Regions from separate parts of the Homo sapiens genome. Here region 2 is linked to region 1. Evidence: fine-mapped expression QTL. A gene starts in region 1. The other region holds a variant in brackets. All regions are shown on one strand. Distances are between the middles of the regions.

Region 1 (16,056 bases):
GTCTCGATCTGCTGACCTCAAGATCTGCCCACCTTGGCCTCCCAAAGTGCTGGGATTACAGGCATGAGCCACCACACCCATCCAAAACTTTCTTTTCTATACTGAAATAGCATAATTTAAATAATCAATAACTATTCTAATCAAACAGTTATGAAAACAGAATACTGAATTTAATTATCTCTGTTTTACAACAAGAGTGATAATATGGCTTAAAAGTTTCCAAAATATACAAGCCACATATAAAAACAGGAAGAATCTACCTCACACAGATTAAGATTATTATTATTTATTCAACATGATGCTTTTAAAACCAATAAATGAACTAATGAAATATAATAGTGCTATTTCTGAAGGAGGGAATAAAAATTTTTATTAGGCCATTATTCTTAATTTACAAATAGAAAAATCTGCAATATATATTTGGAGGTGGGAGACAACATTTCTGATTCAGACCATTATTTCCTCGATAAAGGAAACAGCTTGTGAGCAGAAAATCGAAGGCCAGATGACTTCTGGTGGAAGAATATTAGGGAAAGCATCAATCCTTTGGGAGAAATGACATGACTGCAAGGGAAAAATAACTTTATGAAGACTTTTTACCTACCCTTTTACCTTACATATTTGTATACTATATTATTACTATTATTAAATTAATTATGTGTAACATATTAAGCAAAATTATATAATCATCCCTTGTAATATAATCATGCCATGAATATATATGAAAAATGATAAATAAATAGGAACGTTTTTCTGTAGCAAGTATGAAGATGGAAAAACTCAAGGATCTCTCCAAAAAACAAAACCTGATAGACAGTGCAACTCACCATCTCTGTTTATGATTCAGTTAAGAAGTTCAGGCATTCTAATTGCCAGTAATCTCGCATGTTAAGAAAAAAAAAAATCTAAAGAGTAAAGCCTGTATGGGAATTCTGGCAAATCTGATTTGCTGCAGTTTTTATTTCCTAACTGTCCCAGAGATACTAGAACCAAAAAGATTGTTTTCTTTGCTTTCAAGCCTAAGAGCTGCATGAACCTGGCAAGGGTGTCACTTCTAGTATTATTTCAGCAAAATGTTGTTAGTGGTACTTTCCTTTTTCTGCATCGGAGGAAATACACCAGTAACAGCAAGAAAATATCCTGTTCTTTAACTAAGAGATGTGAGAAGTAAATTCTGATTCTTGCCCACCAATCACCATTAATGCCTTAACACAAGGAATTCCATTCCTATGACCAAAGCTCTACAGCTCAAAAAGATTTCACAGAAGTCATGCTAAATGATTTCACTAAAGGAAAACAGCATTGGTAAGTAGATTCAGTCTCTCCTTAACATGGTAGCTTTTTGGACACTCTGCTTTGGTTTTGACCTTCAAAATTTCCTTTTAGAAATTAGCACTCTACTACTTACTACCAAACTCCTACATCTAGAACAGTAGGTACTAGGTGTCATAGTTTTGGCCCAGCAAGCACTACTCAAGCATGTCCATCATGGCTAAGAGGATACTGGGATAATATGGAATTTGGAAGAAAGATTGATTAGGGAGGCAAACAACTGACAGGCAATGATAAAAAACATTCCCATCAGAGGACACGGGGATGGAGACTGAGAATATTTTCAATAGATATTTAGATGATTGAAAGAGCATAACCAGATACCGTAGTTACCAACATTTTCTCCGAGTATTGAGTATCGCTTGCTTTCTTTTAGTGCTGATCATTCCCATTAAAGATTAAATTTCCCAGTATCCCTTGTAGCTGGGTGTTGACATGTAACCAAGTTCAGGCCTGTGGGATACAAGTAGAAGTAATGTGTGATGACTTTCAGGTGAATTCTAGGACAAGGTGATTGTCCTAGATTTTCTCTTAAACGCCTCCTGTTAGATAGGAAATGGCCATTAATAGAGAAGCTTGCTTGAGGGAGTAACCCTGAAAGCCCAGGCCTGGACACCCGTTTCTTGATGGTCTCATGCTTGCAAAAGAGAATTCTATCGTTACTCGGGTACTCTGATTCAGGGTCTCCTTTCTGCAGGAACTTAACCTCTCTCTAACCAACGCATTGGCAGTTGTAAGTGAGGTGGAAGAGAAAGAAATAAATCTGAACTGTCAGTAAAGTATCTGGATTTACCTATATAACCATTAATTGAAGTTCAGTAGTTGAAGAAGAAAGGGAAGATGCTAGTGCTTGATATTACCTATTAGGCAGCAAAAATATTTAAAGATGTTAGAGCAACACAATTATGTTGTTGAAGAGGAACTGTGGAAAAAAGAATTGAACTAATTGGCCAAGGGAGCACCATGATGCATGTCATTGTCATCTGCTGTTGACCATTCTAAAACTGGACACGACAGCTTAGACACGGCATTTCTATTTTGGCAAGTTTTGGAACTTATAGGACTAAAGTGGTTCAATACTTATAACTTTATATTTTATAAAAATTGAATTTTTATTTAAATTACAAAACTGGGCTTGAGGTGGCCAGAAATTGAACTGGCCAATAAAAGACAACACAGCTCTAAAAAACCTTTAGGTAAGGATTTTTCAATTGGCAATGTATTTTGAATATAATGTCACCTCATTTAGTAAGTATTTTCTAGTGATAACTCTGAGACAATTATTGTGGTAATGCTAGGTGAGTTGTAGGATCATGGAGAGGAAGGGAGACTACAATCTGTAGCTGTAGGGAGTTCACAGTCTAATGGGGTGTCCAAATCTGTAAACTAGAAGAGGTAGAAAGAATAGAAAAGATGAAATGATTTTCATAAATGAAAAAAGACATATAAATACTCCAGGAGCTTACAGGACTTGGATAGTATTTACAGAAGTCAAAGATCAGCCTTTAAAAATAAGTACATAAAATGAAATAAAATTATGACCCAGATCATGAAAACTAAAGTTGTGTGAGAACATAAAATGTCACTCTGAGTCACAATCATAAGATCTAAAAGCATCCAACCCCAAAGTCTTACTGTCAGAGTAGCAACATAAATGCTCTATAGTGGTACACGATGTTCCTTTTGTATATCTAGATAAAAAGTTTAAATATATAATCCCAAGCAAGCTGACTAGCTGTAAGAAACAGAAAAGCACACTGTGTCCACACATGTAACAGTAAATGAAATCATCTCAAGTTATAAGATGCAGAAAACCTAACCAGGAAAAGAAAAGAAATAAATAAAGAAACCTAACATGTCTTAACATTTTGGGGGTGGCTAGATGGATGTTGGCTTTCTACTCAACATGTTATGTGTAATAACTATACACATATCTGGTGCATACAAAAAACCTATAGCACAATATATAATTGCCTCTGTTTTCAGATTAATCTGTTGTCAACTTGACATACACACATAACACATATATGTAGATATACATTTATGCAAGAATCTACGCACATAAATACATATAAACATATACAACATACATAGAGTAATTTGTTTCTCTTACTTACACTTTTACACTTAGTTACACTTTTCTAGTCATTGACTGGAAGTTATGAAAGCTAGAGGGTTAAAAGTATTGCTTGCTTCTCTTTAATTTCTGTTAGGATAAACACATAGAAAATCGAGTAAAGTTTTGTGATCAATTCATACCTCCTGACAGAGTCTGATAATGTGATACCAGCTCTAGCTAAGATTCCCTTCAGAAACAAGCAGATCAGTGGACATTCTCTGACCTGCCTTCCTTCGTCATGTGATAACCTGATGACAAAACCAAACTTAAATCCTGACTGGCAAGCAGGATAGTGGTTGTAGTAGCAGGTTTAAAAAATAGGAGTGTGGAGTTTGTGCTGTGATCACGGCTTAACTAGGATCCTGATGACAAAAACAAGAGTCAGGATGCTGCCAGAGCCTAGCCCTTTGCTGCTGTGGTTACTCACTGGTCCCAGAATCATCAAAGATTGCCTATTGCTTCTCTTAAGAGGTCAGTTGCCTCTCTCCATTAAATCTCCCCATGATTTAAACAATATGAATAATAGTCCAATAAAAATATTACTGCATGCTACAGTCTTCACCAGCTCTGATCTGCAAATATATACACTATATTCACAAGCTTTTAAGAACTAAACCCAGTGCCTGTAATCACCAAAAAAGCAAAAGAAAGAGAGAAAAACACTCATGATAATGCACTCAATTAACTGTGAAGAATTCCCAAGAAATGCCTATGTTCTCAACTACAGTGAAATATAGGTAATTATTACCACAGTTACAAATGTTGTTTCATAGTGAGAAACACTGAAAATGTACATTTTCATAAGAATTGGATATCCATTATTGAGAAAGCATTCTTAAACAGAGAGAACAGTAGTTCACTTTATTAAATATATCCAAATTACAAATAAATCTTTAATTTTATTTTTGATACATATTGTTGAAAAGTATAATAGCACAACTTTGTTGCCAGAAAGGAGGATCCCTCAATGCTAAGAGTATGCCTGTAACTCAAGAAATATAATCAAGGCACATCATAAACCTAAACAAAGTACTGAGAGAGCATTCCTTAAAGATTCTCATTGTTTGAATTTTAATGGCCTGTAGAGCCATAGAATACTTTATTTGGAGTAGACATAGAAACAAATTGTTGTATTTACTTTCTAACAACAGTAGAAGTTGATAGACCCTCGAGAATCTTTACCCCTCTGTAGCCCACTAAGTTCCAGGAAATATCCCACACCATCATCCATTATCTCTTAAATAATCTGTGCACTTAAGAACCTCACCTTAGATGAAAAAGGCAAATAAAAAGAAAAAACAAATTAAGAATGTTCTGCTTACTATTCAACACCCACAAATCAGATATTTTTTAAAAGTCAACTTATAATTTGAGTGCCTCTGAGACATGTCAGCCTGTATTTTACATTTTCTCAATATTCTACATGTTCTTTAGCTTACATTAAGGTTAAATCTGTAAAGTTAAACTGTAGAACTTTATTATTACGTTAAATATACCCAAAGGATATTAAACATCACTTAAGGAATAAATGTAAACTGAAGTTGATTATGGTTTCTATAACACTAGTGGTCACCATTCCTTAAAACAAAAAGTTCAGAATGAGCCCCAGGTATTTTTATTGAAAAACAAATTTAATTTAATCTAGAACTATTTGAATTTCCATTAAAGGGTACAATCCTGTTTTTATTATATGAGTTACTTAAAAATTAGCATGGCCATCATTCCTCTTTTTTCTAAGTTTTTATTATATTGATTCCAAAATACAATATTTGAGGGCTTCTCATATTTTATCTTTTTTTGTCATTCCTAATTAATTTATGTATTTCAGTGAAATCAATAATAGATAATTTTGATAATGTTATTATACCATGCATTACTAAGTAATTCATTGGTTCCAAATTCCATACTCATTTATTACATGATAAAGGGTATGGTTTAATTAAACTATAAAATATAAATATTTGAAATATGCAATACATAAGCCACTCGAGCTAATAATTCAGTTTCCTCATAACGATGCTGATTTCCAATTCTCCTAATATATTCACAAGAATGGGATGAATGAATCCTTTACTCCTGCTCTGGGAGAAAGTAATGGTACCCCACAATTTTCCCACTGAGGAATCTTGTGTACTTAATTTTATCACTAGTCAACAGAGCCCCCCACCAAAAAAAAAAAAAAAAAAAACCAGCATGTAACCAGTATATCTACTGAATATATACCACTGTTGAGGGAGTTCTTATTTTATTTTATTTCAAAATCACATAATTATAACCTAAGTAAAGCATGCTGGTTCTATCTACTGTACTTATGTTTAAATGTGTTGACTTTTCTGTATCTTTAGATTAAGTGAAACTTGTATGCTTTCCTAAGACATAGATATTAAAATCCTTATCAGAATTTTTATACTAATAACCAAATAAATTAATAATTTTCAAAACAGTGAAAGCTCTTTATGTCTATAACATTAAGCATCGTACACTCCAAGCGTCCTTCAAAAGGACAACAAAGGTAACAAACTTTATTCAACAGACATTGCTAGCATAGAGCAGTCAAAAATACTTGAGGTTTCTCCTGTGTTAACACCTACTCATTGCAAGCTTGTTTCTCCTGTGTTAATACCTATTCACTGTAAGCTTGTCTTTGCTTTCATTGCTTCTTTAGCATTTATATTGAGGAAATCAAGAAAATGAGCCTCAACGGCAGTAGTTTTTATGCTCACCTACTCTCTCGTAACTCTATCCATGCTCTTTGTTCCTAAAGCTTTATTGTAAATCAATTATATTTACATACGTATATTACAAATATATAAAGAGTAACATTTATTTTTAAAATTATTCAATTAAAATATAATGCTAAATTGTATTTTTAAATATTATTTAAGATACTTTTAAAATGTATTTCAAAAGAAAGAACAGTTCAAACTTTCATTAAGGAGTCACTTGTTAAACAGTGCTGATTATGTAAAACAGTCACTTCGGAAGAAAAAATAATCATAAGGATTAATCCAAGCAATAATTATGCTGATGCTTTCCAAGGCTTTTGTATAAATAAAATTAATTATATTTTATGGGAAAAAAGCACAAAAGTACTTCAGTTAAATTGTTTCTCAAATAAGAGGTTCAGAATTCCATGTTTCTTTGCCCTCATATAAAGTGAGTACATAAATCATTATTTGAGATATGAATGCTCATGCAGAACATTTAAAGGTAGATTCATGCAGTATAGTATTATTTCAAGTAATGCCTTATCGCCATGTGCTTCCAGCTGAAAACCAACTGAAAAATAACATCCTGAGAGCTACAGAAAAGATTATTAAGCTAATGATTCCCCAAAAGGGAAAGAATATACATAAATAGCAGTGGGGTGGATGGTCTAGATAAGGATTATATATTATGCATTCTGAATTATTATTTGAGAAACCACACTGTCAGCATACCTTTCATCATGTTAATAATAAGCAACAGGTGGTTCAAGGGTAAAAAATGATGGCATTTATCCGCTCCATTCCCTCCAGAAGTCATCTTTGCAAAAACATAACTGTCTTACTAAAATGGTAATACTAAAACCTGATGAAAGTTTTTCAAATAAATCAATATTTATTTTTAGGTGTTGCATATACTTCAAAACAGATATTTGCATAAAATGTATCAGTAAATCCTTTTTAAAATTTATGTACAATTTTGATGGACTTTTTCCTTGAGATCCTAGAATAACTGAGAATGATATAGCAATAAAATCTCCATCTCTATAGAAATTGACTCCATAAATTCTAGCATATTTAGCTCTATAGTAGGCAACTCAGCTTGTCTCAATAGTTTAAGTCAAACACATTCACAAACTGTCCAAGTCCCTCAATAATTTAATAAAGTAATTTGAATAAAATAAGAGAATACTAAGTTATTCAAAATTTAAAATACATTTTAGAGAAGAAAGCTTTTATCTCTGCTCTCATTGAAGATAGTAATACTCTTACAATTCTCCCAGCGAGGAATCTTGTGTAGTTGATTTTATTAAAAAAAAAAAAAACCCAAAACAAATAGAAAACAGCATGCAACCAGTATTACCTACTAAATATATCCCATTGTTGGGAGGTCTTTCAAAAATTCATTTCTAGAAGATTTTAAAGCAGCCATTAAATAATGAAATGTCATAATGTCAAACACTGTTCAAATACTGATGAAGTGTTCAATTTTCGTTTTTGTTTTTGATTTTGCCAAATGAGGGCATGATAAACAAATTTTCTTTAGGTTTAGGAATATCTCACTCGCTATCCTTTTTGCTTGTACTCAATATTGGTGTAAACTTAAAACAAATATGCAACGGGTATGCTTTTATAAGGGCATTTATTTAGCAATAAAATGATGCTTAAGCTTTGTTCATGAAGTATGTAGGCAAGGTTCTCCATTAAATATTCTCAATCAAATGGCTAAACCTAATTTTAAAGTAAAAATTTGTGTTTCTTCAGGAATCCCTCTGCTAGATTTGGCTTGTCAGCTACTTCATGGAGAGGCTGAGAGAATGGGTTAGAGGAGGCAGGATGAAAGCTAGCCTAGGCTCCCTTTTATTTTCCTAAATGGTGACTGAGTCGGAGCTGATGAAAGAAGTTAACTCATCTCCACGTAGTGCACTGCAGATGGACTCCACGAGAAATTCTCTCAAATGTCACGGTAAGGATTGGCAATGTGTCTAGGAACCACTCTCGCTCCAGTTCAGGCCTTCCGCGTTTTAAAGGGTGGGCTAGGGGCGGTATTCAGCCAACAGGGCGGCCTCCTCACTGGGACAACCAAATTCAAGGCTTCCAGTTGTATCGTGCTCTGTACGTGAGCAGCTCTTACTGGGCTCCATTCAGATCAGGTGAGGAAAATAAAAATGACTGGCAAGCCATGGCCACTAGCTTCAAGTGTGGAAACCTGGCTCCCTCTTAATAACCCTTTTGAAAACTCCCCAGGGGAGTCTATGGTTTAACTCTTTTATCGCTGTCACCTGCAATCCTCCCGCCCTCGCAACCTCTTCCCGCAGAGTTCAAGGCAGTGATTCATTTTGGAATAAAATATAATCAAATGCATTGCAAAGATGTTCTAGATTAAAGTCATGTCGAAGCACAAATCTGATCGACAATTTTATGTAAGCGGGAGCGTTCAACGAGTCCTTACTGGTGCCGCCAAACATCCTCCCACCCTTGGAGAGCGGGCATTTATAAATCTTACATCTTCCTACCTCCTCCCTCAAATTCCTTAATGGACCATTAGTGACAGGATCGATCCTAGTTACTTTAGTAGCGATACATCGCAAAGGCACATCTGCTGTGTTTACCAGTGCCAGAAACACCATTCAAAAGTTGAGAGGTTAGAGCCAGCACTTTGTAACCTTTGTGGGCCGGGAGGGGGCACAGGGGAGAGCAGGGTGGGGGAGGAAGAGTGTGAACCTGGTGAGACCTGAACTCCTGTGCATCCAAGAAACAAGCCCTTGAACCAGCTGGGAGGGGGCAGCGGAACTGTGAACTTCTCCAGCAGCCCTGCGCCGCCGCGTTTCCCTAAACCCCTCTCCTCAGAAAACGGAGCCCACTCCCCACCCACATCCGGCGGCCGCGGCCCCCGCCTCGGAGCAGCGCGCGCGTGTGCCCGGGGATGTGGGTGCGCGGAACTTACGTCTCGGAATTTGTTCCACTGTCCGACTTCCTTGTCATACTGAGAGATTGTGGTGAGCCATTGTTTATCATCCAGAAAATTACCGCCGTCCGACCGCCCCCCGGCTGCAGCCACCGCCGCGGCAGCTGCGAGAGACTGACTGCACCAAGCGGCTGCACACACACACAGTACGGCTGACACCTTGAGCATCTGGGAGAGGAGACACAACGGGGGGTGGGGGGGCATGTCAGTGTCAAATAAGGGGTACGAAGCCAGGAGCGACCCTGGAAAACATGCATTAGCAACGACGAGGGTAGAGGGAGGAGGAGACAAGCAGAGGCAAGCGTGTCCCCTCCCCGCAGGCTTTACCCCCAAAAGCCGGGCACTCACACACACGCAGACCCAGAGGAGGAGAGGTGGGTATAAGGAAGCAAGCCCCAGCCGCAGCAGCCCGAGCGGGCACAAAACCGCTTCCTGGCACATCACCTTGTTGTGAGCCAGCACTGTGCTCGCAGCTCCTGCTGGAAATGCAGCCCTGCTCTGCCAACTCGCTGCTTTCTGGAGCTGCTGCACGCGCCGCCGTCTCGAGCCGTCCACTCAGCTCCCTGCGCCCGGCGCGCTCCCCCCATCTCCACCCTCCCTTCGCGCGCGGATCTCCAGCTTACTCCCCTCCGTTCCCCCTCCCTCCCCGACCTCCGTTTTTTTCCTCTTCCACCTCCTCCTATCCCACCTTCCTCTCGCTGGATCCCAGCTACAGTTGGCTCCGGATAGGACGCTTGGCTGGAGCCAGAGGACGAGGTAGCTCCTAGCCTAGGAATCCTTATCTGCTTTGTAACCTCTCCCCTCCAGAAGAGGTTCTCATGTTCGCGAGACAGCCTGCTCATTCTCTGCTCCTGGATTTAACACAAAGTGTACTATCTCTCGCAGTTGCCTCTGCTCCACAATTTCCAGGGTTGTCAGGCAGACGTGAGAAACAAGATCTGAGGAAAACTTTATGCATTAATAAATAAGAATACCTGGACTTCCTACCCTGTAAAGCTCCTGAACTCAGCTCCTCCCTAAAGAAAGGCCATCTATCCACAAGGTCTTGGGAGATCTGTTTAATTTCAGAAAATTTAAAGTTTGCTGTGAGCTTCTGGATTACTACCGACAGCAAACTTTCATGTTAAAGGTTGCAGTTTCTTTTTTTCTTTTCCTTTGTGTGTGTGTGTGTGTGTGTGTGTGTGTGTGTGTGTTTTGTTTTGAGAGACAGAAGCATAACGAGGTAGGGCGTTTGAGAACACCTATATCTCCTACATACTGTAGCTGCATTTTTCCCTTTATAAAAACTCCCTGGCAGCTTTATTTTAGAACGTAGAACCTGAATCGGAAACTTTAAAAGCCTACTGTCTCCCTCCTGCAAAATAAGACAGTTTTGAAGCCCGAACACCAATTTTGTATTCCAAACTTCCATTTATGACAAAATATTTGGCTTTCCATGTCGTTTCTACATATTCTAAATAAACTGGAAGGAAATCAGTAATTAGCCCCTTGTAGAGAAAATCTGATACAGAGAATCTCTCATATTTAGAGAATTTAGGTGAAGTGAATATTACACATAAATCAAGAAATGTCTGCAAGCCAATAGACTGCAATAACATTATGAATCTCTATTTGAATTATTAGAGATTTCAGCCAAAACTACATCTCCCAAAGCTACGACCTTTGAACATTTCTTGTAGCCTCCAAAACTTCAGAAGCTATTCGAATAGCAGCAGTACACATTTTCCATATCAATCTCGTCTAACATTTTGCAATCTATATTAACAAAACGACCAAACTCAATGTTTAATGTTAATTTCCTTTTTTAATGTAATATTTCAAAATAAATGTATAATATGTATGGTAGGAAATATAAGTGTAATATTTATATAGGAAAGAAATTTCTATTACTATTTTTAACTCAGAAAAAGATGTTTTTCTCAATTCCCCCCATTTCTACAGTGATGAATGCAATTAGTGGAGAAAAACACGGAACATACTACTGCAATTCATGGGAGCCCTGATTGACACGAACAAATGTCAGAAAACTTTAAGAATATAGATGTGTGCTAATTCTTCAAAGATATTTATTTTTGCCTGTTCACAGAGGGTTATTACCATGTAGTTTACATATTTAAATTCTTGTTTAGTAAATTTATTAAGACAATAGTAGGTGGTCCATTCTCCACTATCACCTTTTCCTGACCCCTGGTCCTTTGACCTCCCACACTCTCATCCTTAGCTCTCTTCCTCAAAATTTGAAGAAATACTTTATTATTAATAAGAATATCTCATCATGTTTTAAAACCTCATTATTTCTAAATTTAAGTCTAATAGGGAAAGCACAGAAATTGTTTCTTACAAGAAACTGATACTTGGCAGAAGTCAGTAATTCTAAAAGTAAAAATGACCTTCTAACCTTTGTAACTTACCTTTTAAAAAGATAGTTGTTATTAGCTACAAAATACTTGATGAGGAATAATGCTCTAACACTCATCCCCTTCAGCATCTGCTATACATTTTAGCTCAATAACTGGCACCATCTAAGGCCAACATGGTCACCTTTAGATTTATGGAAGCACATATATTTATGTTTATACAGCATTTCCCCCCCAAATACGTCTATTTTGTGGCTGACTCTCCAATGTTCAGAGCATGTTTTCACATCTAGCTTTCACTGGCAGCTTCCCATACTGCAGCTCCACAGGGACGTCTCCAAGTTGTGAAATTTGTTGAAAACAAACAATGACAGTTGAATTCATCTTGGGAGAAATGCCTTTGATAGGGTTTTAAACTACAGATCTGAAGATAGAGTAGGATTTACTAGCAAATTGCAAGTTTAAAATTCTAAAGTCAAAAGAGGCAGAGTGAGCCTGTCTACAGTGTATTTGTGTTGGCCTGGTGTGGTCCAGTCACCTGACTGCTCCTACAGCTCCTTAAGCTTCTCTTTCCAAGCCATTGCCATTGTCTAGGCTAAGTGGGCATGTTGGTAGTGAGAGTCAAAGTCTAGTAGGTGTGATGTTGTGATGTTATTAATCACAGGGAAAGGTTTCTATCAGTTTCTCTATATATCAATATTTTGGTCCTCAAACAGCCTGCTTTCAAGGTTTAAATAATCCTAGGAGAATTCACACTTCAGTTAACACCTTGGTTATCAGTTATCACCTCAGTGGGGATTCATTGAAAGCTTGCTGAGAGCAAAACACAGCAGAGAATAATAAGGGAAGAGTATTAGGTGGGCAGTAAGATATTGGAAGAGAGTAGTCAGGAGCCTTGTATGTCAAGGTAGGTGAGTAGACAAGAAATACTTCACTGACTGCTTCCCAGATAGATGGAGAGCCAGTCTAAAAAACTGGAGAAGCCAAAAACGCAGAAAGTGGGGTGCAGCATATGAGGTGGGTAAAGTGAGACGCTGGTGCCAGGGCTGGGACTTGATTTTATTTTTCAGATCATGCTTTACAAAATTGGAACTCAGAGCAAGACACAGGGCTTCAGATTCCCAGCCCCTTTGTTGTCATTCTGCCACCTGATGCAGAAACATAGTTTAGATACATTATGAAAAGCCAATGCTGAGGCCACTGCTAGATTGAACTTTGCTTTCATATTTGTGTATTTGTCCCTTTAGTTGTTCTTTCTCTCTAAACGTTCAGTAAATCAGTCCACAAATATCTATCATGAAAGATGTAAGGAACATTTTTGATAGGTATTATTTTAATTAAATGTATTTCTTCTGAAGGTTTCCTTACCCTCATTTTCAGACATGACACAGCTCTAGAAATAAAAATGCTAAGCATATATAATGACAGCTGGTCCATTTCTAACCGCCTTTGAGGTTGGATCCATGACCTTCATATAACTCCATTTATTTAAATGCGTGCACAACGTGCACACACACACACACGGTGTGGTCTTTCATAGGTTATTTTTTTCCCCAACAACTATAAAAGCATGCTACTCCATTATCTGTAACCAACATGAGGATATGCAGGAAAGGTCCAATTTATTGCACATCTTCCATGTGCCACACACAGAGCCAGGCAATTTACATGCATGATACCTTTTAGCCTTCACTGCCTAAGATCCTATAGCTACTAAGTGCAAAGGAAAGTTCTGGAGAATGATCAAGCTACTTTGTTTCTAGATATTTTTTCTCTATGTAGAAATATCTCTGAATCATCTTCTGTTTATGCTCTTTAATTCTTCTGCCCCCATATCTTTCCTTCTCCACCTGTTGCATATTTATTTATCTATCTCTATTTCAGTAAGAGCTAGGACTCATCTATAATTAAAGGCAGGAAAAGAGAGAATGGCTACTTCAGGGAGCTTGCTAAGCTAGGCAGAAGCAGCTCCACTTGTATAATGAGCACCTTAGTCCCTGACTCAAATGATGACCCTGTCCACTGGAATCTTTCATCTCAGCAGCATCAAGCCAGTAGCCCAGCAGGCAATCCGACTGGTTGGCTGAGAAGAGAATTAACCAAGACTGCCTCTCTCTCCTTATTGCAAAAGTGTTTGCCAATCAAGCAAGTGTTGTTTGTCTTCCCTGTAGGAATACATGCTTCCCATTACCTTCCCAGCTGGTGGAAGGTAAGGAGACATGTGCATTAAGGGATTTCCAAGTGTCTGACTTCACCCAAAGCTGTAGTTTAATGATATATGAGTTAACCTAAAAACAAAATTTGGCCATTTCTGAAATATTTCATTATAAGGCTAGGGAAACAATACCTGATATATAAAAGTCAACCATCTAGAATGGTGCCTTATACCAAATCCATCTTTGAGTTTAAATTAAGCATATAAAAGAGGAAAAAAAATGAAGGAAAACCCTGGGTATTAAAAACTCAGGAGTAAATTAAAGACGTCATAAAATGATGTCAAGAAGGAACACTCTATGTCTTCATTTTGGAATTGTGTTTACTGAAGTCTTGTAAGTCTTAAAAATCGTGTGTTCTTAATTTAATAGAAAGTAGCACCATTACTAGTATGTGCATTGAGGATATCAAAAACAAACAAAACCAGAATGGAATTTCTAGAATAGGATGTTAACAGACTTTTGTTGTTGTTCGTTTGTTTCTTTGTTTTTAGAGATGAACCCACTGAAGCAAACTTGGAAGATATTAGGTACCTAATTTGATAAACAGGACCTCTTGTGATTTAACTTAATCTAAAACATTCAGTAGATAAACAGACTTTAACAGCTGTAGTAGATATTGGAAACTCATTAGTCAGTTCAATTACTATAATTCTTAAAAAGGTATTTTTCAACATTTAAACCATAGGGTGAAACTGACTGAATTAACTGATTACTAAGGAGATGATAGGAAAATGGCCAATAAGGCAATTAAAGTTTGTGTTTTCTTTAAATTGAGATATATGTTTTGACTTTGTAAAATAAAGACTTTCTGAAAAGTTCAATGAGCATTAATTATAAATATTTAAATTTTCCTGAGGGCTATGAGACACTGACACAAAAAAGGATAAAATAAAATGTTTAAGAATATTTTAAAAATAATTTCACTCTATGCCCATGCACAGAAAGACACACATTCTTATATTAAGACTATTAAATTTAAAAATTTGCATGTGAAAAAGGTTTCTAAAAACACCTCGGTTCTTGAGATTTATACCAATGTGTTTTTAAAATTTTGTTAAACCTGCATATTTATTAATGATCTTAATATAAAAATATATGGGGAGCCAGTTTATTCTTTGACTCAGAATTCTACTTGGCTGAGTAAGGTATATTGTTCTAAAATGGCTATAGAGTTTCTATAGTCAAGATCTACAAAGAACCTTCTATGTTTATCTTTGTAAGTTGTTGTTTGTTTATTTTTAGCTGACCAGTGCAAAACGGGCATTATATATCATTCGCTGTTAAATTACCATGGGTTAGCTATTTTCAGAGGATAAAAACTATCCCAAGTGCTATTGCAAATTCATGCCACTTATTTCTGTCCTCTTGGGTAAATGGAGAGTTCCCTTAATGTGAGGCAGTCATACTAAGAAGGAGTATAAGGTTAAGATTACTGTCCATACATACCATGCCAAGCATCCCGTTTTCTACAAGATAAATGAAAGTAAGGAAAGGAATAGGATGTTAACAGGCTTTAACAGGCATTAGTTTAATTTTAGTTTAAAAATTAAACTAAAATGTGAAACAATTTTTAAATATGTTTATTGATTGTTCTCTAAATGTTATACAATAAGCTTCAAACTAGGGATAAAAAATGTGGCTAAGTTGAAACATGATCTCTCACACTCTTGTGAGCAAAAACACATAATTTAATAATTTAATTAGAGTACAATGAGTGAAGATAGATAATATATGGAGCAGGTTTCTTCCTGAATTAATGAGGGCACTGAAATCTGAATGTATTGTCCTATAGAAATAAAAAGTTGACAGGTAGGCTTGACCTCAGACAAACAGCTCAAACAAAGCTGGTGAGCTTCTCCATCATGTGCCAGTTCAATCAGTGGACTTTATAACATGAAACTTCAACCTTCCAAATTCAGGTGCCTTAAACAATGGCATAGCACTTACAAATCTCACATTATGGAAAAGGGAGAGATTCTTTTCCTAAAATTCATTCACAAGAAAAGAAGAGTTCCTCCACCTTGGAAGCTTTAACAGTTCTGACCTTGTATCATATTGGTTTTCATCTGGTTACATGTCCAACCCTAAAATAATCCCTGGTGGCAAAGATGATGAGAAGTGGACAGTGATAACCCAACACTCAAGCAGTGATAGGAAACAGTCTCTACCAAATCTTTGATTTGTAAGTCTGAGAGGGACTAGTTCTTCAAAGAACAGAAGATTAGAGCACTGTTTCACCAATGGCAGGATCAAAGATGGCAAATGTAACCGATTTCTACCAGAGACTTGCAGGGGATACTGTGGGAGCAAAGAAAGGGGTCATTTAAGAGACAAGATGTGAACCTTGAAAAATAAGCCT
Region 2 (16,056 bases), 55 kb after region 1:
TGCAGTGGCTGGTACCGGTTGTTCCTTTCCATGTTTAGTGCTTCCTTCAGGAGCTCTTGTAAGGCAGGCCTGGTGGTGACAGTATCGCTCAGTATTTGCTTGTCTGTAAAGTATTTTATTCCTCCTTCACTTATGAAGCTTAGTTTGGCTGGATATGAAATTCTGGGTTGAAAATTCTTTTCTTTAAGAATGTTGAATATTGGCCCCCACTCTCTTCTGGCTTGTAGGGTTTCTGCCGAGAGATCCACTGTTAGTCTGATGGGCTTCCCTTTGAGGGTAACCCGACCTTTCTCTCTGGCTGCCCTTAACATTTTTTCCTTCATTTCAACTTTGGTGAATCTGACAATTACGTGTCTTGGAGTTGCTCTTCTCGAGGAGTATCTTTGTGGCGTTCTCTGTATTTCCTGAATCTGAACGTTGACCTGCCTTGCTAGATTGGGGAAGTTCTCCTGGATAATATCCTGCAGAGTGTTTTCCAACTTGGTTCCATTCTCCCCATCACTTTCAGGTACACCAATCAGACGTAGATTTGGTCTTTTCACATAGTCCCATATTTCTTGGAGGCTTTGCTCATTTCTTTTTATTCTTTTTTCTCTAGACTTCCCTTCTCGCTTCATTTCATTCATTTCATCTTCCATCGCTGATACCCTTTCTTCCAGTTGATCGCATCGGCTCCTGAGGCTTCTGCATTCTTCACGTAGTTCTTGAGCCTTGGTTTTCAGCTCCATCAGCTCCTTTAAGCACTTCTCTGTATTGGTTATTCTAGTTATACATTCTTCTAAATTTTTTTCGAAGTTTTCAACTTCTTTGCCTTTGGTTTGAATGTCCTCCCGTAGCTCAGAGTAATTTGATCGTCTGAAGCCTTCTTCTCTCAGCTCGTCAAAGTCATTCTCCATCCAGCTTTGTTCCGTTGCTGGTGAGGAACTGCATTCCTTTGGAGGAGGAGAGGCGCTCTGCTTTTTAGAGTTTCCAGTTTTTCTGCTCTGTTTTTTCCCCATCTTTGTGGTTTTATCTACTTTTGGTCTTCGATGATGATGATGTACAGATGGGTTTTTGGTGTGGATGTCCTTTCTGTTTGTTAGTTTTCCTTCTAACAGAGAGGACCCTCAGCTGCAGGTCTGTTGGAGTACCCGGCCGTGTGAGGTGTCAGTCTGCCCCTGCTAGGGGTGCCTCCCAGTTAGGCTGCTCGGGGGTCAGGGGTCAGGGACCCACTTGAGGAGGCAGTCTGCCTGTTCTCAGATCTCCAGCTTCGTGCTGGGAGAACCACTGCTCTCTTCGAAGCTGTCAGACAGGGATATTTAAGTCTGCAGAGGTTACTGCTGTCTTTTTGTTTGTCTGTGCCCTGCCCCCAGAGGTGGAGCCTACAGAGGCAGGCAGGCCTCCTTGAGCTGTGGTGGGCTCCACCCAGTTTGAGCTTCAGGGCTGCTTTGTTTACCTAAGCAAGCCTGGGCAATGGGGGCGCCCCTCCCCCAGCCTCGCTGCCACCTTGCAGTTTGATCTCAGACTGCTGTGCTAGCAATCCGCGAGACTCCGTGGGCGTAGGACCCTCTGAGCCAGGTGCGGGATATAATCTTGTGGTGCATCGTTTTTTAAGCCTGTCGGAATAGCGCAGTATTCGGGTGGGAGTGACCTGATTTTCCAGGTGCCGTCCGTCACCCCTTTCTTTGACTCAGAAAGGGAACTCCCTGACCCCTTGCGCTTCCCAAGTGAGGCAATGCCTCGCCCTGCTTCAGCTCGCGCAAGGTGCGCGCACCCACTGACCTGAGCCCACTGTCTGGCACTCCCTAGTGAGATGAACCCTGTACCTCAGACGGAAATGCAGAAATCACCTGTCTTCTGCGTCGCTCACGCTGGGAGCTGTAGACCAGAGCTGTTCCTATTCGGCCATCTTGGCTCCTCCCTCCTAGTATTTGTTATTATTTTCTAGGGTTTAATATTTTTATAATGCATATTATGAGTGAAAGGGAAAATTAGCCACATATTTTAATTTAAAGAAAGATGATGAGTCATTTAGTTTTATAAAAGGTGTTGGAAGAGAAAGCATTCAGCTGGTGATTACATTTATTGGCATAAAAATCTAGCCTGACTCAACCCATCACTAAATTCTGGGTGAATCATTAAGTAAAAAACAAACACAGGAAACAGAAACACAGCATTTTCCTACTAGTATGTCTAAAAAATATTCTTGGAAATATTGCAGATAACTGATGTGAAAAAATTACTAGGCAATTATATTGTATAAAAAATAAAGTAGAGAAGGATAAAGTCAAAGACAGTTTGTAGGAAGAATTAGTAAAGGAAAAACTGAAAGAAGGAGGAAGGAAGAAAAGGAAGAAAAAGAGAAAATGATACCTCAGACTCACATTTTGATATATTACAGAAAGACTATGCGGTCATACACATTGTCTTTTCTCAGTGTGATTTGTCATTCCTGGTGTATGTGCATTACTCAGAATTTCAGGTCTGAGTCAATAGAGTATATCTTGAAAAACAATAGGTGTTTTTGAATGAAACAAATTAAATTTGTTTTTGAATGAAAAAGAGATTTTTCATGGCTCTAGCATTTAAACACTTCTCCAGTCATATCTATTTTCTTTTTTTACCATCTCTCCTTAAAGGATATTATCATATTTTTTCAAAACCCACGACAGTTTTGACCGTGATGTAGACATATACCATGACAATATTAAGAAAATATGTTGACAGAGAACTTGGACTTTCTTTTTTAGGGGTGCAGTTTTCTTTAAAACATCCATGTGATTAGAGTCCATTGTATTTTAATACAAGCAAATTGTGATAAACATAGTTTTTTTTCAAGTATCTATAGCTTTAAAATTTAAGATATTTCTAAAGCTTCAGACTAATGGTCAACTACACAGAAAACATATTTTCTGGTAGTTCTTACATTGTGGGAAATCACTGGGATTTCAACTAGAAAACTTAAATTCCAATTCAAAGCTTGTGACTAAAACCAGCTGTGAGCTTTTGACATATGGTTTGGCTTCTGTGAACAAGAAGCTAATGAAATATTGTTGAAATTGAATGATTAAACCCAATGTAAAAATGAGTGCCCAATGTAATCATTAATAGTAACATTTTCTTAAATTACACAGGCCATTTTAAAAATCAATATAATAAAAATTCATACATAGAACCACAACCAACATATGATTATATGTGGCATAAATATAAATTCTAAAAGGCAAATCTTAGTATAATGAGAAGAAATTCTAAAATCCCCACCCTGATGGCTTAGAACGGTGACTGTCATTTCTCTAGCGTTGGTTCAACAGTATTTATTTTCAAAAGTCACATAACTTTGCTGGAATGTTAACTTAGGTCCTGCAAATTTCTTAAATATATTTTAATATAAATGATTATTATATATTGCTTTGTAAAATTTCACATAGGGTTATTGCAATCTTAGGACATATCATCATGTAACTTGACATTTAAGAACTCCATGAATAAGTAGTTTGTCTTCCTCTACTAACTGTTCTGATTCTTAATTACTTGAAGGATGAGCAAACGATTGCTTATTATATGAGGCATAACTATTATTAAAGATCATTATTAGAACCATAGATATTAGAAATAGAAAGGACTTAAAAGTTAATAAAGTTTTTCTCATTTTGCAATGAAAAAAATGAGAACCTCAGGGGTTAATAGATAGACGCATAGTTGTACAACTAATGAAATGGCAGAGCCAGAAGTATATCTAACTTTTAAAAAAAAATTTTTACTTTAAGTCCCGAGATACACGTGCACAATGTGCAGGTTTGTTACATAGACATACGTGTGCCATGGTGGTTTGCTGCCAGTATTCACTATTGACCCATCCTCTGAGTTCCTGCCCCTGGCTCTCCACCCCCCAACATGCCCTGATGTGTGTTGTTCCCCTCCCTGTGTCCTTGTGTTCTCATTGTTTAACTTCCACTTATGAGTGAGAACATGTGGTGCTTGGTTTTCTGTTCCTGTGTTGGTTTGCTGAGGATGATGGCTTCCAGCTTCATCCATGACCCTGCAAAGGGCATGATCTCATTCCTTTGTATAGCTGCATAGTATTCCATGATGTATATGTACCATATATTTTTATCCAGTCTATCATAGATGGACATTTGGGTTAATTAAATGTCTTAGCTATTGTGAATAGTGCTGCAATAAACATATGTGTGCATATGTCTTTATAATAGAATGATTTATGATCCTTTGGGTGTATACCCAGTAATGGGATTGCTGGGACAAATGGTGTTTCTGGTTCTAGATCCTTCAGGAATCACCATACTGTCTTCCACAGTGGTTGAACTAATTTACATTCCCACCAACAGTGGAAAAGCATTTCTATTTCTCTACAGCCTCAACAGCATCTATAGTTTCTTGACGTTTTAATAATTGCCGTTCTAACTGGCATGAGGTAGTTTCTCATTGTGGTTTTGGTTTGCATTTTTCTAATGATCAGTGATGTTGAGCTTTTTTTCATATGTTTTTTGGCCGCATAAATGTCTTCTTTTGAGAAGTGTCTGTTTAAATCCTTTACCCAATTGCGATGGGGTTGTTTGTTTTTTTCTTGCAAATTTGTTCAAGTTCTTTGTAAATTCTGGATATAAGACCTGTGACAGATGGGTAGATTGCAAACATTTTCTCCTATTCTGTAAGTTGCCTGTTCACTCTGATGCTAGTTTCTTTTGCTGTGCGGAAGCTCTTTAGTTTCATTAGATCCCATATGTCAATTTTGGCTTTCATTGCAATTGCTTTTGACATTTTTGTCATGAAGTCTTTGCCCATGCCTATGTCCTGAATGGTATTGCTTACGTTTTCTTCTTGGGTTTTAATGGTTTTGGGTTTTACATTTAAGTCTTTAATCCATCTTGAGTTAACTTTTGTATAAGGTGTAAGGAAGGGGTCCAGTTTCTGTTTTCTGCATATTGCTAGCCAGTTGTCCCAGCACCATTTATTGAAGAGGAGATCCTTTTCCCGTTGCTTGTTTTTGTCAGGTTTGTTGAAGATCAGATGGTTGTAGATGTGTGGTGTTATTTCTGAGGCCTCTGTTCTGTTTGTCTGTATGCCTGTTTGGCACCAGCACCATGCTGTTTTGATTACTGTAGCCTTGTAGTATAGTTTGAAATCAGGTAGCATGATGCCCCCAGCTTTGTTCTTTTTGCTTAGGATTGTCTTGGCTATATGGGGTCCTTTTTGATTCCATATAAAATTTAAAGTAGTTTTTTTCTAATTCTATGAAGAATGTGAATGGTAGTTTGATGGGAATAGCATTGAATCTGTAAATTACTTTGGGCAGTATGGCCATTTTCACAGTATTGATTCTTCCTATGCATGAGGATGGAATGTTTTTCCATTTGTTTGTGTTCTCTCTTATTTCCTTGAGCAGTGGTTTGTAGTTCTCCTTGAAGAGATCCTTCACATCCCTTGTTAGCTGTATTCCTAGGTATTTTATTCTCTTTGTAGCAACTGTGAATGGAAGTTCACTTATGATTTGGTTCTCTTTAGTCTGTTCTTGGTGTATAGGAATGCTTGTGATTTTTGCACATTGACTTTCTATCTTGAGGTTTTGCTAAAGTTGCTTATCAGCTTAAGGAGTTTTGGGGCTGAAAATCATGGGGTTTTCTAAATATAGAATCATGTCATCTGCAAATCGAGGCAATTTGACTTCCTCTCTTCCAATTTGAATACACTTTATTTCTTACTCATGCCTGATTGCCCTGGCCAGAACTTCCAATACTATGTTGAATAGGAGTGATGAGAGAGGGCATCTTTGTCTTACGCCAGTTTCAAAGGGAATGCTTCCAGCTTTTTCCCATTTAATATGATATTGGCTGTGGGTTTGTCATAAATGGCTCTTATTATTTTGAGCTACATTTCATCAATACCTAGTTTATTGAGAGTTTTTAATTTGAAGCAATGTTGAATTTTATCACAGGTCTTTTCTGCATCTATTGAGATGATCATGTGGTTTTTGTCTTTGGTTCTGTTTATGTGATGGATTATATTGCTTTGCGTATGTTGAACCAGCCTTGCACGCCAGGGATGAAGCTGACTTGATTGTGGTGGATAAGCTTTTTGATGTGCTGCTGTATTTGGTTTGCCAGTATTTTACTGAGGATTTTAGGATCGATATTCATCAGAGATATTGGCCTGAAATGTTCTGTTTTTGTTCTGTGTCTGACAGGTTTTGGTATCAGAAAAATGCTGGCTTCATAAAATGAGTTAAGGAGGAGTCCCTCATTTTCAATTGTTTGAAATAGTTTCAGAAGGAATGGTACCAGCTCCTCTTTGTACCTCAGGTAGAATTCAGCTGTGAAGCTGTCTGGTCCTGGGCTTTTTTTGGTTGATAGGCTATTAATTAATGTCTCAATTTCAGAACTTGTTATTGGTCTATTCAGGGATTCGACTTCTTCCTGGTTTAGTCTTGGGAAGGTGTATTTGTCCAGGAATTTATCCATTTCTTCTAGATTTTCTAGTTGACTTGCATAGAAGTAATTTTAATATTCTCTGATGGAAGTTTGCATTTCTGTGGGGTCAATGGTGACATCCCCTTCATCAATTTTTATTGTGTCTATTTGAATCTTCTCTCTTTTCTTCTTTATTAGACTTGCTAGTGGTGTATTTATTTTATTTTATTTTATTTATTTATTTTGAGATGGAGGCTTGCTCTGTCGCCCAGGCTGGAGTGCAGTGGCGCGATCTTGGCTCACTGCAAGCTCCACCTCCCGGGTTCACGCCATTCTCCTGCCTCAGCCTCTCAAGTAGCTGGGACTACAGGCACCCACCACCACATCCAGCTAATTTTTTGTATTTTTAGTAGAGACGGGGTTTCACTGTGTTAGCCAGGATATTCTCGATCTCCTGACCTTGTGATCTGCCCGCCTTGGCTTTCCAAAGTGCTGGGATTACCGGCGTGAGCCACCGCCCCTGGCCTATTTTGTTAATTTTTTCAAAAAAACAGCTCCTGGATTCATTGATTTTTTTGAAGGTTTTTTTGGGTCTCTAAAGCCTTCAAGTTTGTTCTGATCTTAATTTTTGCTTTCTGCTAGCTTTTGGATTAGTTTGCTCTTGCTTCTCTAGCTCTTTTAATTGTGATGTTAGGTTGTCAATTCGAGGTATTTCTAGCTTTCTTATGTGGGCAATTAGTGCTATACATTTCCCTCTTAACACTGCTTTAGCTGTGTCCCAGATATTCTGGTACACTGTCTTTTTGTTCTCATTGGTTTCAAAGAACGTCTTGATTTCTGCCTTAATTTCATTATTTTTTCAGGAGTCATTCAGGAGCAGATGTTCAATTTTCATGTAATTGTGTGGTTTTGAGTAAGTTTCTTAATCTTGGGTTCTGATTTGATTGCACTGTGTTCTGAGAGTGTTTGTTATAATTTCAGTTATTTTGCATTTGCTGAGAAGTATTTTACTTCCAATTATGTGGTCAATTTTAGAGTAAGTGCCATGTGGTGCTTAGAAGAATGTATATTCTATTGATTTTTGGTGGAGAGTTCTGTAGATGTCTATTAGGTCCACCTGATCCAGAGCTGAGTTCAAGTCCTGGATATCCTTGTTAATTTTCTGTTTCACTGATCTGTCTAATATTGACAATGGGGTGTTAAAGTTTCCCACTATTATTGTCTGGGAGTCTAAGTCTCTTTGTAGGTGTCTAAGAACTTGTGTTATGAATCTGGGTGCTCCTATATTGGATGCATATATATTTAGGATAGTTAGCTCTTCTTGTTGAATTGATCCCTATACTGTTATGTAATGCCTTTCTTTGTCTTTTGTGGTTCAAAGTCTGTTTTTTTCAAAGACTAGCTTTGCAACCCCTGCTTTTTTTTTTTTTTTTTTTTTTTTTTTTTTTTTTTTTTTTTTGCTTTCCATTTGCTTGGTAAATTTTCCTCCATCCCTTTATTTTGAGTCAATGTGTGTCTTTGCATGTGAGATGGGTCTCCTGAATAGAGCACACCGATGGATTTTTTGACTTTTTATCCAATTTGCCAGTCTGTGTCTTTTCATTGGGACATTTAGCCCATTTACATTTAAGATTAATACTGTTATGTGTGAATCTGATCCTGTCATCATGATGCCATCTCGTTATTTTGTGCATAGTTGACGCAGTTTCTTCATAGTGTCATTGGTCTTTATATTTTGGTGTGTTTTTGCAGTGGCTGGTACCGGTTTTTCCTTTCCATATTTAGTGCTTCCTTTAGGAGCTCTTGCAAGGCAGGCCTGGTGGTGATGAAATCCCTCAGCATTTGCTTCTCTGGAAAGGATTTTATTTCTCCTTTGCTTATGAAGCTTAGTTTGGCTGGATATGAAATTCTGAGTTGAAAATTCTTTTCTTTAAGAATATTGAATATTGGCCCCCTAATCTCTTCTGGCTTGTAGGGTTTCTGCTGAGAAGTCTGCTGTTACTCTGATGGGCTTCCCTTTGTAGGTGACCTGGCTTTTCTCTCTGGCTGCCCTTAGCATTTTTTCCTTCACTTCAACCTTGGAGAATTTGATGAATATGTGTCTTGGGGTTGATCTTCTTGTGGAGCATCTTAGTGATGTTCTCTGTATTTCTTCAATTTGCATGTTCCCCTGTCTTGCTAGGTTGGGGAAGTTCTCCTGGATAGCATTCTGAAGTGTGCTTTCCAGCTTGTTTCTGTTCTCCTCGTCTCCTTCAGGTACTCCAATCAATCTTAGGTTCGGTCTTTTTACATAGATCCATATTTCTTGAAGGCTTTGTTCATTCCTTTTCATTATGTTTTCTTTAATATTGTCTTCGGATCTTATTTCAGCAAGGTAGTCTGCATACACTTATGGCCTTTCTTTCGCTTGGTTGATTCAGCTACAGATACTTGTGTAAGCTTCACAGAGTTCTCGTGCTGTGTTTTTCAGCTGCATCAGGTCATTTATGTTCCTCTCTAAACTGGTTATTCCAGTTAGCAGCTCTAACCTTTTATCAAAGTTCTTAGCTTCTTTGCATTGGGTTAGAACATGCTCCTTTAGCTCAGCAGAGTTTTTTATTACCTATCTTCTGAAGCCTACTTCTGTCAATTCGTCCATCTCATCCTCTGTCCAGTTCTGTGCCCTTGCTGGAGGGTCATTGCTATCATTTGGAGGAGAAGAGGCATTCTGGCCTTTTGGGTTTTCAGCATGTTTTTTGTTGATTCTTTCTCATCTTCATGACTTTGTCTAGTTTTGATCTTTGAGGCTGCTGACCCTTGGATGGGGCTTTTGTGGGGACTTTTTCTTTTTGTTGTTGTTGATGCTGTTGTTGCTTTCTGTATGTTTGTTTATCTTTCAATGGTTAGGTCCCTTTTCTGTAGAGCTGCTGTGGTTTGCTGGGTTTTCTCTTCAGGCCCTATTCATCTGATTTGCTCCCACGCCTGTAGATGTCACTCAAGAAGGTGCCTCCCTTGACTGGGGGGTGGGAGCTCTTCTGCCCTCTGTGACTCTCAGGTGGGCCATGGCACCACATTGCTCTTCCTTCCTTTCCATGGATCATACCAGCCGCCTAGTCAGTTCTGATGAGAAAACCTGGATAGCTTGGTTGTTGGGGCAAGATTCACATGCTATTATGGTTCTTTTTGATGGAAGCCTCTGATCGCCGCTCCTTCTTGTCAGCCATCTTGCCCCACCTACCTTTTCTAACTACTAAGG[A/G]TTCTTTTTACTTCTCCTAGAACTTTTTAACTACTCTAAGCTCTTCTCTAGATATTATAGGTAGCTTCCTTGGAAACATGATTATATTTATTATTCATAATTCTTTCATTGATTGGCTTAACTTTCATTTAAATCATTCATTTGAAACAATTGAAATCTAATGAAATCATCCTAAATTAAAATGGTAATACCACATCAATAAATTTGTCATTTATTGTTCATCTTGGAATACTCTTAGCCTCTTCACATAAAACGTGTTAAAATTAAAATTGTAAGAGTTATTATCTATTTTTCATTTTTATTTATGATTATTAATAAGAGGAATAGATTATCTTATGACTTAGCATAATGTTGGCTTTATACTCATGTGAAACACTTAGTTTATTACTACTCCTACTACCTCATATTTCTAGTCCTAATGTTGTCATAACGGTAAAAACTCTATCTGGTTCATCCTCAAATATCATTACCATCTCTGAAACACTCCAGATAACATTTGCACCATATAAAGAGAACAATACAATTTCATTTTAAAGTAAAATATATTATGCATTCCTGCTAAAATGTTTAAATCATGTAAAATTCATGGAATGTTAAATGTTTACTAGCTGACCAAACAAACATTGCAAATGGAAAACTCATTAATATATTTCTAAGTATAAGCAGAAAAAAATGTCATTTCCATACATTCTAAAACTTTTATTCTCAATGGAAATATTTTCTCATTCTCAAGAGAAAATTATTTTTGTAGTACAATTTTAAAGGGAGTTCAATTATTTAACCTTTGTGCTGCAATTGTTAGTGAATTGAGATTTTTTTTTATGGACACAGTAACATGTGAGGAATATTCTAAATTTATCATTAAAAATAGTATTTTGTATATATCAATAGAACTACTGTTATGAAAAAAAAAAACACTTAAAAAAAGTCACACACTGAAATCTTACCATTTTTCCTGGTGTATTTAGTAAAAGAGTGCCCCCTTGTGATTTCTGAATACTTATACAACAGTGAGGTCTACTAATCCTGGGGAAAAATTTTTAATTAAGAAAAAAAGGCTCCTCTCATCCTTAAAATACAACCAACACTTTATTTTTGCACATGAAACTATTTTAAGTTTAAATTTATTTTACTGGAAGTAGAAAAAATTTATTTCATGGAGATTTATCAGAAAGCAGTTTTAAGAAAACCACTAAACATTCTAGGACGCCAGCTCACAGAATGCATATACTGCTGCTGTTTTCCATTTTTATGCCCACGTAGGTGGCTCTCTAGAGACAGAACACTGTTTCTAGAGAATAAAGCTGCTGAGCTTACATTGATTGGAATTTTCCTGACAGTGCAGCATAATTCTGACATGTTTTGTGCTTATTCTTCATTATGAACCTAGGACACAATACATAGGGCCATATGTTCCTCTGAGTCCTCAATGGAACTCCCAGGGATACCAGCAGGCAGTTGTGTAGATCCAAGAAACAGCAAAGCTCATATTGAGACTGGGAGTGTCATGACTTTGGGAGCTTTGGCTCATGCATATCTGAAACACTGGAGAACATTCGATATACCATTAACTGAATGTGGTACCAATGAGAAATTATGAAATTAAGTTAATGGAAGACTGGGGATTTAATATAAAATTACTAGGCTAATTTTACCACTGTTTACACTCAGTCAATAATTTATTAGCAATGTAGCTAATTAAGGTTGCAGAGTATCATACTTCTCTGGAAGGACAAAAAATATTTATATGTAATAGAATAGCTTAGTTTGAAATAACTTTTGACTCTCCATTTCTAACCATGAAAAAAAAATCTCTCAATTTAGTTAGCCAAAAAATAATATTGAAGGACAAAATAATGGTTTGGTAGAATAAAAGGGTGATTGATAGATCGGGGAGGCAAAAAAGAATATTAGCTTTTCCAGTTAAAGCCAATTTGTCAAAAGTAGACCAACTTTTTTAGGCTACTTGTAATAAAAGTTGAAAATATAAACAACTATATGAATGTTAGATATTTTTCAGATTATTCAAATTTCACAGTCATCAAAAAATAGAACTTGTAGATGAAAGTACAAGAAAAAGAAATCCGTTTCCTGTGAACATTTCCCTAGACCTGAGTTTCTCAACAGAGGTGGAGCAGTTTTACTCCCTGGGACATTTGGCATTCTCTGAAGACATTTTTGATTGTCACAATAAGGTGGACGTGTTCCTGGCATCTACTGAGTAGAGGCCATAAATGTTGCTAACCATCCTAGAATGCACAGAATAGTTCCCAATAACAAAGAATTTTCTGGTCCAAATAGGTAGACTTAGAATTTTAGATTTTAATAACCTATAAGGCCTTACCTTGCTAGATTTTGTATGCTCCTTTGCATAATTCTTCATTTGAAATCAGGCTGACAGTGGAAGTTTGTGATAGGAAGAACTTGGCTTACAAATATTACCATTCCTTTTTTACTTAAAAACATTTCTACCAATGTGTAAAATATCCTACAACAGATATTTTTCTTAAAAAACTGTGTAAAGGAAAATTATTAATGAATATGTAGAATCCAAGGTTTATCACTCTCTCAGTACTCCATCCCAGTCTCCCACCCTGACCTTCAGATATTCGGGATGGGGTCCAGAAATCTACATTTAAATAATATACCCAGGTGATTATCCCACAGGTGTTTGTAGACTACATTTTGAAAAATGCTACGCAGATTCCCCTGAAGATTCTCATCAGTAAAATATTCCTTTATCTTTACACAAAATTATTTTACAAATTCCAGTGCTCAATATGGGGCATATTTAAACTTGTTTTCTTGTTTCTCTCCCTGGCAGAGAAAAGTCTACAAACCAGCTTTACCTTAAGTAGAGAAACATGGAGGGAGAGAAGGCAGGGAGATAAAAATAGATTTAAAAACTAGGTATCTGATTACATGTAAGGAAATAGAATACTTTGTTTTTGTTGTGTATTTTTAATGATCAAAGTTTCTGAGAGTTTGGAACAGAATGCAAGACAACATTGGAAATCATAGACCAAGGGGTGACTTTGAGTACCTTCTAAGTGTTAGAGAAAATTTTAATATATTTTTAAATTAGCCATTAATTATTCCTATTTTTAGTTTTCTAGCATAAAACAAAATAAGACAAACCCACCTAGTCCCTATACTCAATCATTAAAAATGAAATTGTAGAATTTACTTGCAAATCTCTAATGAATAAGCCACATTTTTGTTATTTCACAGGGCATGCTATCAAAATGACCAGTAACATATCTATGAAATACTAATGTCATTCATTCAATCTCAAAGCATGCAATTTAGACATCATAAATACAACCACGATAATTTAAAAACAACACTAACAGAGCTGTGTACAACTTTGAGGGGAAAGTGACTACCTAAATGATGCAAACAATTTACCTTGAGTGTTTTCTCAATTGAATCAAGCTTTACAGTTAACCAAATAAGAATCCATTTAGAGATTTGCATTAATCAGCATGAGAAATCTTGAAACAATGCCATTATAAAGGAATTTAGCCTTCAGAGCTTACTATATAATTTAAGATTCCATCTGACAAATGTATTAAACTGAACCAAAATGCAAATCCCTAGAATTCTAATCAACTTGGAGGAAAATTACTACTAAGTCTACCCATTTTGCTAACAGAATTATATATATATTTTAAAAGTCTCTATATTATGTATTCTTAGAGAGATCAGTCATCATTAAATAAAAAATGAATTCTTTGTAGACAGAAATTTGGACAATCTAGCTTTAACATTCTAGAACATATAGTTATCAAACCATTAATCAATTATTATACACTGGCTAAGAATACATTTTTCTATGTATAAGTGAAACTTAAAATTGATAACATGATCTTAAATACTATTGATTTTATATACGCTTCCCCAAATTATAGTCTACTTACTTAACAGCTGTCTGTTAGCCATGCCTAAATACTAAAGTTTAATTGGTTTGTATAAATTTATTATAAGGAATAAGGGGAAAATGTGACAGAGGATTGAGCTTTAAAAAATGAATAATAGCTTTTAGTCCTTTGCATTTCACTTTCTGGCTTGCATTTAATCAATATGTATATTGTTGAATAATTTTATATTGTTTAATATTTGAAAAGTTTTATATAAATATGATTCAGAAAAGAAGTGTAATGATTAATTTTGTGTTAACTTGGCTGGGCCACGGTGCCTAGATATGTGGCCCAGATATGTGGCCAAACATTATTCTTGGTGTTTCAGTGGGCATGTTTTTGGATGAGATTAACATTGAAATCAGTAGACTTTGAATAAAGCAGACTGTGAATAAAGCAGATTGCCCACTGCAGTGTGGATGAGCCTCATCCTGTCAGTTGAAGGCCGGAAGAGGACAAAGCACTAACTTCTCCCACCCCATTCCCCACACCGAGCAAGAGGGAATTCGGCCAGCGGATGTCTTTAGGATTCCAACTGCAACATTGGCCCTTCCCTGTGTCTCCACCCTGCAGGCCCAACCTGTAAATTTTGGATGTCCCATTTACCATAATTACGTGGGCTGATTTCTTAAAATCATCTCTTTCTCTATATATGCACATCCAACTGGTTTCGTTTCTTTGAAGAAGTTTGACTAATACAAAGAGATGTGAATTTATAAAAAAATTATGCCATCTAAAAATAATAGAGTTTTCACATTTTTGTTTTGTCTTTTTGCTTTAAAAATACTGAAATAAAACACATATAGAAGGAAAGTAGGCAAATATAAATACATGTGAAACCCATTGAATTATCTCAAAGAGAATATCTGTGTAACCACTACCTAACACAAGAATTTAAATTTTTTAATGTATAAGAAGAATCCTTCCTATCTTTACCCATCAACTCTTCCCTTACTCTCCCTCAAAAAATTTCTGGTTTCTAACACTAGAGTAACACTAGAGTTTAGTTTTGCTTCTAAAACTTTATATAAATGCAAATATACATATATTTATACTTTTATGTCTGTCTTTATTCATCCAGCCATATGTTGTTGATGCAGGATTTTTGCTCCTTAGTTCAGCTAAATCCGGTTCTTGTCTCACAAGCTGGAAAAATTAGCCACGCGGACACATTGAAGGGTGAGAAGGACAGAATTTAATAAGCAAATGGAAGGCTCTCAGCAAAGAGGGGTCCTGCAAACAGGTTTGCACCTCACAATTGAATACCAGGGCTCCCACACAGGAGCTGAAGAGGCCAGGCTCCTCCTTCCTAGCATAAGCCATGAATTCTTGGTGGGCCCACCCCATGCTTCCAGTGTGCATGCGGGCCCTTCGTTTGAGCCACTCCACATTGATTTATTTCCCTTATTGTGCATGGGTTAAGGGATGAAATTTTTCACCGTGGGCATGTTTAGGTCAGCCCCCTATAAACAATGATCTGGGTGGGTCAGGGGTTCTCTGAGACCCTTCCCTATCTGCCTAGGCATTTAGCTGCCTCCTGCCTCTATCATTGTGACAGTTATCCATGTTGGTGTGTTTAAGGTAATATTATTCATTTCATTGCTCTAGTATTAAATTGCATAAATAAATAAAAATTTATTTGTTCACCATTGGATTATTGATAGGCATTTAGATTTTTATTAGGTATTGGCTATTACAAATTATATGTCTATGTTTGTGTGTGTGTATGTGTGTACTCAATATAAATGTGTCTGTGTCTGTTTATGTGTATATGTGTATGTGTAAATTTACCTTGTTTTCTCAATTGAATCAAGCTTAACAGGTCAACAATACATACACACACATACATAGACACAGACACATTTATATTGAGTACAAACATACAAGTAGTTTTTCTGGTTAGTAAGATATATGCATATTCAACATTATTAGGTAATTCCAGTAGTTCTGTAGAAATTTAAACTTTTTATCACCTGTATATATAAAAGATCAGTTTTTCCATTTCCTCAGCTACATTTGTTACATCATTCATTTAGACACTGGTGAAAGTATGTGTTGTATCTTATTTTTAATTTGCATTACTTTTAATTTCCATTTCACTGATGTCAGATCAAATAGACCACCTTTTTACATATGTATTGACTATTTGCATATCTTATGATACGCCTGCTTGAGTTCTTGGCCATACCTGATTTTGTGCTTTTTTTCCCTAGTAGAAATTCTTTTCAGTCTTTGTAACTTTTATTTCATTTGCTTGTTTAATTCACTGGCTAGAACCAGTACAACATTTAAAAGAAAAAAGGATATTGACATCTTCCACCGAATCTCTGATGTTTCTTTCAATATTTCACTATTTATCATCATTTGCTGTAAATATTTTGTAGATAGTTGTTTTTTCTTTTTTGTTTTGTTTTTTTCAGATGGAGTCTTGCTCTGTCACCCAGGCTGGAGTGCAATGGCATAATCTGGGCTCACAGCAGCCTCCACCTCCCTG

Alleles and levels. Positions count from the first base shown, and alleles are read on the strand shown. Sizes are in standard deviations (SD) of each study's normalised expression.
As copies of A replace G in region 2, the expression in T cells of the gene that starts at base 9,613 in region 1 goes up (moderate effect, 0.44 SD a copy in GENCORD).

Evidence for each region.
Region 2: its variant is fine-mapped to the expression of SPOCK3 in T cells (GENCORD, PIP 0.92).

The regions. Positions count from the first base shown.
Region 1 is chr4:167,224,882-167,240,937 of GRCh38, forward strand. It overlaps SPOCK3 (SPARC (osteonectin), cwcv and kazal like domains proteoglycan 3), which reads right to left and starts at 9,613. Exons shown (of 11, transcript NM_001040159.2): 1 at 9,569-9,613; 2 at 9,104-9,292. The coding sequence starts at 9,292.
Region 2 is chr4:167,280,259-167,296,314 of GRCh38, forward strand. No RefSeq gene overlaps it. Among named protein-coding and RNA genes, the nearest start is that of SPOCK3, 54 kb to the left of the region's middle. The variant A/G (reference allele first, on the strand shown) is at 9,643.